Regions from separate parts of the Homo sapiens genome. Here region 1 is linked to region 2. Evidence: fine-mapped expression QTL. A gene starts in region 2. The other region holds a variant in brackets. All regions are shown on one strand. Distances are between the middles of the regions. Region 1 has its middle 40 kb from the start of DTWD1. Region 2 holds the start of DTWD1 (DTW motif tRNA-uridine aminocarboxypropyltransferase 1).

Region 1 (5,393 bases), 40 kb after region 2:
TTTTTTCTTGTAGTGCTCTTGTCTGGCTTTGGAAGTATTCACTGTTCTTCAAATTTTTGAGGAGTTTGAGAAGGACTCGTATTAGTTCTTCTTTTAATATTTGGTAGAATTCAGCAGTGAAGCCAACAGGTCCTCGGCTTTTCCCTGATGGGTGACTTTTTATTATTGATTCAATCTCCTAATGTGTTACTGGTCTGTTTGGATTTTCTATTTCTTCATGATTCAGTCTTGGAAGGTTGTGTGTGTCCAGGAATTTATCCATTTCTTGTAGGTAATTCAAATCATTGGCATATAATTGTTCACGGTAGCCTTCTTGTATGATACTTTGTTTCTGTAGGATCAGTTGTAATGTCTCTTCTTTTGTTTCTGATTTTTCTTATTTGAGTCTTCTCTCTTTTTTTCTTAGTTGAGCTAAAGATATGTCCATTTTGTTTATCTTTATAAAAACCAACTTTTGGTTTCATTGATCATCTTTATTGTTTTTATAATCTATATTTCATTTATTTCTGCTCTGATTTTTATTATTTCCTTCTTTCCGCTAACCTTGGGCTTTGTTCTTATTTCTCTAGTACTTGAGGTGTAACTTTAGGTTGTTTGTTTCAGATCTAGCTTCTTTTTGATGTAAATGTTTATTGATTTAAACTTCCATCTTAGAAACACTTCTGCTGCATCCATATTTGTAGTCTAATTTTCCAGTCCATGCTAGAATAATGACAAACTCCATTTTCTTTTGATCTAGGAATATAGTGCAATCAATCTTTTTTTTTCAGTAAATCTTTTGTATTCCTATCAGTCTTCTGATTTTAGGTTATTGGCCAAATAAGTATTTTGGTAGTTATAAAAATTTTTGCTTTGACTACAATTTTAATACATAAAGTAATGGTTCTTTCTATGTCAAGAGATGAGCCAGTCATATATTTAGAAGTTTTTTAAAGCTCTTAGCTTACTTTTAAAAAATTTATATATTTAGGGTTAGGCACAGTGGTTCACACCTGTAATTCCAGCACTGTGGGAGGCCAAAGTGGGCAGATCACTTGACGCCAGGAGTTCGAGACCAGCCTGGCCAACATAGAGAAACCCTCTACTAAAAATACAAAAATTAGCCAGGCATGGTGGTGCATGACTGTAATCCCAGCTACTCAGCAGTCTGAGGCATGAGAATCGCTTGAACTTGGGAGGTGGAGGTTTCAGTGAGCCAAGATCACACCACTGCACTCCAGCCTAGGCAACAGAGCGAGACTCTGTCTAAAAAGAAAAGAAAAGGAAAGAAGAGGGGAGGGGAGGGGAGAAAGAAATGAGTAAAGCAAAGCAAAGACAACAAATTTATATATTTAGAGCCCGTTTGTCTGTTTGAATAGTTAGATAAAAATAGTTTCATTACTGAATGCTTTAAAATGAAGGCTATGTTTCCCTTTTGGTGTCTCAAATAAACTTTCCCACTTCACCCACTAACATAGAACATTGCTCCAGCTATTAAAAAACTACAGTTTAGGAATGTAATAATGCAACAAACTAAAATTAATCACAAATAACCTGTATGTATTGACTTCACCAAAGAGGTATCTTGTCTGACTAGACACCTCTTGTCTGACTAGATACCACTTGTCTGTGATTTTCATTCTAAAATTAGGGTTGGAAATAGGTGTATAATACTAATTTGGGGGGACCTGGTTACTAATTTGGAGACTGCCATTTTCAGAAATGTTAGTCTTGAGATTTGTCCCTCTACATTTGCATCGAAAGGTGAATAAGTTCAGTGTAATTAAGGTCACTAAGATTATGCAGATATAATTTTTAATTTTTAATGATAAATGTTAATTAACCCAAGTGTACAGAGCATGTAACATATCACAGAGGTACATGAAGCTAACATTTTCGTAGAAGTTTATCTTACAAGAAGGATATAATACCAATTTCAATACCACAGGTAAAGGGAATTCAATCAAAATTAAGGTAGATTATTCAATATAATGTTTTAAGCCTGTTTGGCTGCTTCTAGCTATACAGCTTATTCTACACTGCTATTGTCCATGAATAATTGTTATACTGTCAAGGATATCAGACCATGTTAATAATACCTAGAAGAACATATCTTGAAATGTAAGTGTATTGAAAAACAAAAATAGAATACACTTGAAAGTCCAATTGCATACTTACTCATTCAATAAATATTTATTGAGCATCCACTACATGCCAGATATATCTATCTTGCTTGTGACTGTTTTAAAATTTTTTTTATTTCCAAATGTTCATTGCTAGTACATATGCTCCTCCACTTAACTATAGTTAATTCCTGATGAACACACTGTAAATTGAAAGAATCTTAAGTCAAAAGTGTGCATAATACACATAACCTACCAAACATCATAGCTTAGTCTAGCCTACCTTAAACGTGCTCAGAACACTTACATTAGCCTATAGTTGGACAAAATCATCTAGCAACACAATACACTATAGAGTATAGGACGTTTACCCCCCTGATCTCCTGGCTGACTGGGAGCTGCGGCTTGCTGCCACTGTCTAGCATCATGAGTGAGCATCTTACAGCATATCTAGCCTGGAAAAAGATCAAAATTCAAAGTACAGTTCCTACTGAATGCTATCACTTTTGCACTATTGTAAAGTAGAAAAATTACAAGTCAAACTATTGTAAGCTGGGGACCATCTCTTTATAAAATGTGATTTATTTTATAAAGTGACCTTGTATCCTGTGAATTTGCTAAACTCACTTATTAGTTCTGTGAACATTTTGCTAGATTCCTTGGGATTTTCTGTATAGACAATCACATCATCCCTGAATAGACAAC[A/G]TTTTATTTCTTCCTTTTCAGTAAGTATGCTTTTTATTTCTTTTTCTTGATCAATTGAATTGGCCAGGACTTGAATATTGGATAGATGTATAAGAACAGACATCCTTTCCTTGTTCTCAATCATGGAGGGAGGGAATTTAAACCTTCACCATTAAGTATGCTAGGTTTAAGTTGTATGTGCATGTTCATGTGCATGTGTGCACATGCTACCCATTATGGGATTAAGAAAGTTCCCTTATGTTCCTAGTTTGCTGAGAGTCTGTTGAAAAATATACAATGAATGGAATTTGAACTTTATCATTTTTTCTGCATATATGTGGTTTTTCTTCTTTAGTATGTTTATATGGTAAAATACATTTCTCTAATTGTATTTTCTAATTTGGGACCAATCTTGCATTCCTGGGATAGACTTTGCTTGGTTATTTATTATCATTTTTATGTTTTTGCATTTGATTTGCTAATACTTTGTTGAGAATTTTTGCATTTCTGTTTGTGAGGTATATTGGGGCATAGTTTTCTTGTGCAGTGTTTCTGTAGTTGTAGTATCAGGGTACTGCTACCCTCCTAAAATGAGTTGGGAAGTGTTATCTCCAGTTTTCTTGAAGACTTGCAATTTTTGTATTTACAGATTTTTATTCTTTCTTTCCTAAATGTTTGGTAGAATTAATCAGGGAAACCATCAGAGCCTGGACTTTTTTATTTTTGGAAACTTTATACTTAAAATTCATTTTTTGAAACAGATATAGAAACATTTAGGTTAACTTTTTTCTTGAGTGAGTTTGTCAGTTTGTCTCTTTCAAGAATTGGTTCAGTTCATCTAACCTGTGGAATCTATAAGCAGTGATTGTAGGATTCCCTTCTTCTACCTTTAATGCCTGTAAGGTCTATAGTTTTCTATTTTTTCTTGATAAATCTAAGTAGAGATTTATCAATTTTATTGATCATTTCAAAGAACAAGTTTTTTGTTCCCTTTTGTTTCCTTTACTTTTTGTCAGTTGTATTGATTTATTCTATTTATCTTTTCCTCTTTTGATTGATTTGGGTTTAATTAGCTTTTTTTCCTACTGTTTTAAGTTTGAAACTTAGATTATTGATTTGAGGTTTTTCTGCTTTTTCAATATAAACATTTAATACTATAAATTTCCTTCTAAGCACTGCTGAGAAGGACATAGCTGTAGCTGCATCCCACAAATTTTGACATGTTGTATCTTCATTTTCAATCGGTTCAAAATAATTTCCAATTTCATTTGAAACTTCCCCTTTGACCCATGGGTTATTTAGAAGTGTGCCACTTAACTTCCAGGTATTTGGGGATTTTCCAGAATTTTTGTTATTGATTCCTAATTTAATACCTATTTGATTAGAGAATACACTTTGTATGATTTCAATTATTTTTAATTTTTTAGGATTTGTATTATAGTCCAGGATATTATCTATATTCATGAATATCCATTTTCAATTGAAAAAAAAAGTTTGGAGTCTGCTTTACAGTTAGATCAGGTTGATTGATAGTGTTAGTCAAGTGTTCTAGAATCAATGGGAAAGATAGGTTGTAGTGGGATTACTCTTGGCCAGCAGTAGAAGTTTAAGTCGGATTTTGAACTCAGATTTTTCTGACTGTACAGTTGATATTGTTTCCATTATGCCACAACGAAACATGAAAAGCTCCTAAAAGGTCTAAAAATCTGCTAGGTATTATGCAGCAAACATAATTCTTGATCCTAAGTTTACCCTTATGCTGCAAGTAAATTCTATTTTTTGCTTAAAGAGGAAAAGTCAAAACCTACTTAGGAAATGTACAAGTTTTCTTGTTCTTTGCAAACAGACATTAAATATTTTATTTAATTTCTCATTGGAAACAGGCTTTAAATATGTTTTCTAGTCTACCCAATTTTGAAAGACATGTCCTTCTATCTCTTTTAAAAGTTAATAACTTTGGAGTCAAAGGGCTACTTCCCTTTTACTATAGAGGGAAACACTGAGGCATAATGAGGAAAAAAATATCTTAAACCACTGCATTAGATATCAAATTTGAGCTTTTCTTCACTTTTCACTCACACTCCTCCCTGCTTCCTTCTATTCCATGAGTTAGAGGGGTAGATTAGAGAAGTATTTTCCAGTCTTAAAGAAAAAAAAAACACCCACATTCTCTGTTCACAAATATAAGTATCCCACACTCTCCTTCTGTTACATTTAAATTTTATAAGTAAATGAAACTTTTACTTAAAAGTTTTAAATAGTCATTTTATTTTTTTTTTCAAATTTCTTATGTCCCCCTCTCCTGAATTTCATGTGTACTCCCTAAGGATGACATCCCATGTTGGAAGTGCAAATCATTTCTTCTTCCAGATTCATCTAGATCTTCCCATCTGGGGATCCTTTGGCAGTCTTCTTGTTCTCCTCAAAGTCTTTTTCACCTTAACCTGTCACACTGTGGCTCATGTGTATGCTCTGAAATGGATCCATCATCATAGATGACCTTCTCCTTTTCCCCTGTAAACCCATGCCTTCCATAAGGGAGCAGGCCACAAAGCTAGCTAACCCATGCAGAAGTGTGCAAAGAAATCTATGTCACAACTCATGAGG
Region 2 (5,393 bases):
TTCTTATTGCTGCTGTAACAAACAGCTAACAAAGTGGCTTAAAAAATCACAAAGTTTATTATTTCACAGGTCTAGAGGTCGGGAATCTGAAATGGGTCTGCAGGGCTATGCTCCTTTCATGTTTTGTGTGTGTGTGTGTGTGTGTGTGTGTGTGACAGAGTTTCACTCTTGTCGCCCAGCATAGTAAATTTACTTGTGTAACAAAAAAAACACAAAATATCAATGGCTTAATACACATAATTTTTTCTCCCAGAAGATCTTTTTGTGAGAAAAGGGGCTTCTAGCAGTCACCTGCTATCCTTTGCTCAGAGCTCCTCCCTCTATCTTCAAAGCCAGCAGTGTAGAGTCTTCTCCCCTCTCTTGACATCTTGTCTTCCTCTCATAAGAACTCTTTGATTATGTCCAGCCACCCAGACAATCCAGGGTAATTTAGCCCATCTCCTTAATCACATATGCAGTTCCTTTTGCCATATAAAATATCAACAGGTTCTGGAGGTAAGGATATAGACATCTTTGGGGGCCATTATTCTATCTACTACACTCCTATTTACCTTTTTCCAAGAAGGTATTAGAGAATGTAGTTCATTTTTAAAAAGGGATTAAACAAAGAAAAAGGAAACAAGGGATCTAACACACAGGAGAGCAGTATTATGTTGGAGAAACCAGCAATCCTAAATAAACTAAAGGCTGTAACGCTGTAGGAAGAGTATCTGTAAGGAAAAAAAATCTACTGGATTAACTGATGTATTTCACTGTGATGCTTTAGCAGTTTGCCAGTGTTTGAGAACAGATAAATAATACATTAAAAATGGCAGTTAAGAGAAAGGAAAGTAAAAAGTTGTATTAAAAGTTAATGCGATCTTAGTATACTATGTGCCTTGGGGTTGAATGACATTTACCTAGACAGTAGTGATAACACTAAATGTTGATTTAGCCAAAGCCTATGATATCACTATTGACAGGTGAAGGGACAAGAAGAGTGTATGAGGTAGAGAGGGAATGTTCACACACTTGGAGGTGGTGTTGTTACAAAAGACCTTTATCACTGCCTTCCACAGGAGAAAGTCAGTGGGTAATGTCTGAAATTGGAAAATCAAGAAACTGCAATGTAAGTATATTTAGACATGGGGGTAACAGATGAAATATTTAAAAGACTTGAATTTTCCTTTGGTGAGAAGAATTGAGAATAGAGTAGAAGGGTTGGGTACTACAGGGTTTTCTTTAACCTAGAATGTGGCAAACTGTTAGTGCTCACCAATATGTGTGTGTTTCTCTACATTTCTCAGGATCCCCGGCAGTTAAAGTGGGGGCCTTGGGACTAAATTCTGGCCAACAGAATGTGGCCAAATTGATACATGTCATTTTTAGAGTTAACCTTGGGTAATTTGCCATACTTTCTTTCTTGTCAAACAAGCTAGTCCTAGAAGGCAGCAGAACCATTAAAAATAAAAACATCTGGCCTTGAATTTAACATTTCGTCTGCCTAGAAATAGCCACAATGGATCTTTTGTGAGGAAAAAAAAAAGTGTATTAAACCACCGATATTTTGGGGTTTTCTGTTACAGAAGTAAATTCACTATGCTGGTTTTAAAACATGGACAAGAAATCTTTGCCAATCCTTTGAGAAGAGGGATCTATGTCTCCTTTCCTAAAATGGAACAGGACTTTGACACATTTGTAAGCAAAAGAAAGTGGGGGAAGTAGCACCGCGTTACTTTTTGAGGCAAGGTCAGAAAAGGTCAGGCAATTTTTGCCTTGTTCATTGCAACACTCCCTTTGGAGCTCTGAGTTTAAGCTAAGAAGTCTGACTACCTTGCTGCCATACTGTGAGGAAACCCCGGCCATATAGTTACAGAAGCTCTGCTAGCATGCCCACTCTAGTCTTTCTAATTGAGTTACCAAAGAAAAGCTGATGACTATGCCCTATTGACAACACCACCTGTGAACATAATAAAATGGTTGTTTTAAGCCACCATATTTTGGAGTAATTTATTACATACGATAGCAACCCAATGCTCAATCTAACAAGTAGTATTATTTGCTTTTTAATCTGTGCAATTTAACTACTTTGATAAAATTTAGAGTTAAACTAAAAAGGAAAATGGTTGTGAATTCTTCTTGGCTTATAGACTTTGCTATTCTACTTTCCCTACCCAGAAAATTCACCTTTCTCCCTAAATCACTGGCTTTCAAACTTTTTAAGGTTTGAAATACAGTAAGAAATACATTTTACAAACAAGCCCTAGTGCACACATACACGCATATATACAATTAAAAGCTCCATAAAGCAGTACTTTACTAACTAACACTAAATTTACTTACATGCGCTGATATTTCCAATCTATATTGTTTCTTTTTTTTAAGTTTAAAGAGATTTCCTTGCTTACAAATGGGTCAAGACCTCCACTAATGGGTCCCACACAATCCCCTTTCCAGTTGAAAAACACTGTCCTAAACCTAAATCATTCTTCAAGGCCTTACCCAAGTCCGAAAAAGAAGCCTTTATTGACCACTCCATTCTCAGCTTTCTTGAAATTCCTGTAATTTATTAAATTCCATTTTTTATCTCAGTAGTAAGAATATTGCATTTTCTGTACTTGAATTTAACATGCTTTACTTGATATCGTGAGCACTTCTAGGGCATTGTAATGTCCTTTATCTACCACTTGATAAATTCAGAGTAGTCAATAAAACATTGCTCAACATTTGACCATTGTGTTTTAAAATCTTAGTTGTTAGAGTGCACTTCCGTTTGCGCATTGTTTGGGGAGAGGCACGGACAAATGTTCTAATAACTTATCCACATATTATACTTCAAAGTGGAAAAACACAAAGTACTCTTAACTCTATATGCGTGTTTTTATGCAAACTAAATCATTAAGATACAAATGATTTTTCTAATAGCTTTCATTACCACACAGCACACGAAATAATGATATTGATATAGCCACGAAAGACTAATGTAACCAAGTTCTCACAATCAAAATATCTTTGAGGTGGGCAAAATGCAAACTTTTCTCTGGGATCAACATTTCTTCACAACTCACTGCAACTACGCCTTGACAGTATGTTTCGAGAACCGCTTCCCAATTTTGTTGTCCCAGCAAGAATCGGGAGGAAACTGGGTGAAAGGCTGCGAGGCTTGAGGCGGGTCCCGGACGAACGCGGCCCTGCCCCTCGCCGGAGCCTCTCGGGAGAAGTGCGACACCGCCGCTGATTGAGAGGCTGAGGCGGAACTTCCCGTCTAACCCCCCCCCCGCTGTCGTCCCAGCCTGTTGCTTAAGCCGCGCGGTGTGCGGTGTGCGCGGCCCCTGCCTTAGCAACGACGCTAGTAACTGCCTGGCTCCTCCCTCTGGTGTCTCCCGGAAAGCGCTCCGTCTGGTCCGTGCGCGATCACGGCCCGGCGCGTGGCTCGGGCTCGGGCGGAGCTGGAGACGTGTGGAGCTGTTCGAGGACTCGCGGGTGTGCAGGTCTGAGTACCACTCCGATCCCTGGTGGAGGTCCCCGCGCCTCTCTGGAGACCAGTGGTCTGGCCCCAGAGGTGCGGCCGCGGGAAGTGGACATTCTTTGTCAGGACCCTAGCGGAGGTCGCGCTGGGTGTCGCCTGTGAGGGGGATCCTCGGTTTCTGCGCGGTCTCTTGCTTTTTTTAGGATCTTGCGGGCCCTTTGGGAAAAAGGTTTCCAAATTTTTCCTCAAAAAAAAAATTATTTTTCCTACCAATGATTTTCGGTGCATTCCGCCCCAACGAAAAGTATGTCCTGGCAAAGTCAGTTCCCTAGGAACCCCATACTTTATTTTATTTTATTTTTAGTATTTGGAGTGGTTTGTGGGGGTTTGGTTATCACGGAAGGGGAAGCGTAGTACAGACGTAGAATTAGTGATGCCATGCAGTGTATTTAAAATATTGAGGTTGTGGTTACATAATAAGCAAAAGAGCCTGTTTCTTACGTCTAAATTATTTATTGGGAATGTAGGACAAATAAGGAAGTATATTAACATTTTCAGTCGCCAGGCCCACAAAGTTGGATGGTAAAATCAATACTGTAGATCGCAGCATGTAAGGACTAACCCAGTGCACCATGAAAACGAAGGCAAGACAGTTTGTTACCATATGGCGGGTGGTGTGGGAGAGGCCATTGATCCTATATGAAAAAGGGTACTACTACCTTGGATTATGAAAAATGAATGTTGGACCTGTAGGTCCTATGTGACCAAGTTCTTAAAAACACTCTAAAGAAAATTGGAAGTGGTTTTTTTCTAATACTGAATTGGTCCACAATATAGGACAGGGGAGTCTGTATAGTGTTCCATTGGGAGGTGAGTCAGCTTACAATAATGGAAGAGGTAGAAGCTTTTTGTTATTATTTTGGAGAAAAAAAAATTGCCAGCCTGCCACTTGTGCTAGGCTGCAGACGGCCCATAAAGGTAGTTTGTCAGATACTTCAGTAGTGAGATGCTTACTGGATGTGTTTTGCAGAATGGTTTTGATTTAGTTAACAAGTGTTTGTTGAGTTCCTGCTGTTGCATAAGAATCAGGAATAGGTGAGATCAGGGAAGGAATCTGCTCTTACAGAGTTGAATGCTGGAGGGGATAGATTCACTAAAGTACCTCCACAATAAATGCATTTTTCCATGTCAAATATGTGGAACTAATAATAAGTACTCAAAGAGGTTTAAGACATTGCTGTGGCCCATCTATGAGTTAATAAGGAACTGAATTAGAATCCTGACTTTGAGAGTGAAGATAGAGGATTATATACAAGGTAGATGCAACTTGGTGAGTATAATTAATTTGGGGTGGAAATTGGGTAGAAGGAGGAATAAAAAATTAATGTATTTTTAGCCTTAAGTTCCAGAATGATGGACGCACCATCAAGGTGTTAAAATTGTTAGTTCCTTAGGAACAGTCTTTATGTTTTCTAAGTCTTTTTAGCCCCCATGACTCAAATTGTACTTCCTTGCACATATTTGATGTTAACAAGTATGTTTTAAAAATTTTAAATAACCCCATTTGCAATAAAATCATTTGCAATGATTTTCTCACAGTCGAGGCAGGCTGTTGGCTCGGTTAGGACAGATGCCCTGATCATGTAGTTTCAGAGACCACTGGAGGGAGCTGCCCATGATTTACAATTGCTGGCCTCTTCTACGTGGCCACCTCAGCCATAAGTGAGAGTATATAGGTGAACTAAGAGGTGGAGCCATAAACATTTCTCTTTTACTGTCTTACAGGTATTTGTGGTGGTTGATTTTTCTAGAGGAAGGTTATTTATATAAAGCTTCACTAATATCCATTTAGTTATGTGGATAGCAGGTCCATGAACTGCAAAGTGATATTTCTGAGGTATCTCTAGGAGGAATGCACTTTCAGTGCCCTAGGATAACTCCAAAA

Evidence for each region.
Region 1: its variant is fine-mapped to the expression of DTWD1 in whole blood (INTERVAL, PIP 0.98).

The regions. Positions count from the first base shown.
Region 1 is chr15:49,657,936-49,663,328 of GRCh38, forward strand. No RefSeq gene overlaps it. Among named protein-coding and RNA genes, the nearest start is that of DTWD1, 40 kb to the left of the region's middle. The variant A/G (reference allele first, on the strand shown) is at 2,808.
Region 2 is chr15:49,617,653-49,623,045 of GRCh38, forward strand. It overlaps DTWD1 (DTW motif tRNA-uridine aminocarboxypropyltransferase 1), which reads left to right and starts at 3,396. Exons shown (of 5, transcript NM_001144955.2): 1 at 3,396-3,470. FAM227B (family with sequence similarity 227 member B) reads right to left here and starts at 3,166. Exons shown (of 16, transcript NM_152647.3): 1 at 3,048-3,166. RefSeq lists an enhancer at 3,508-3,627.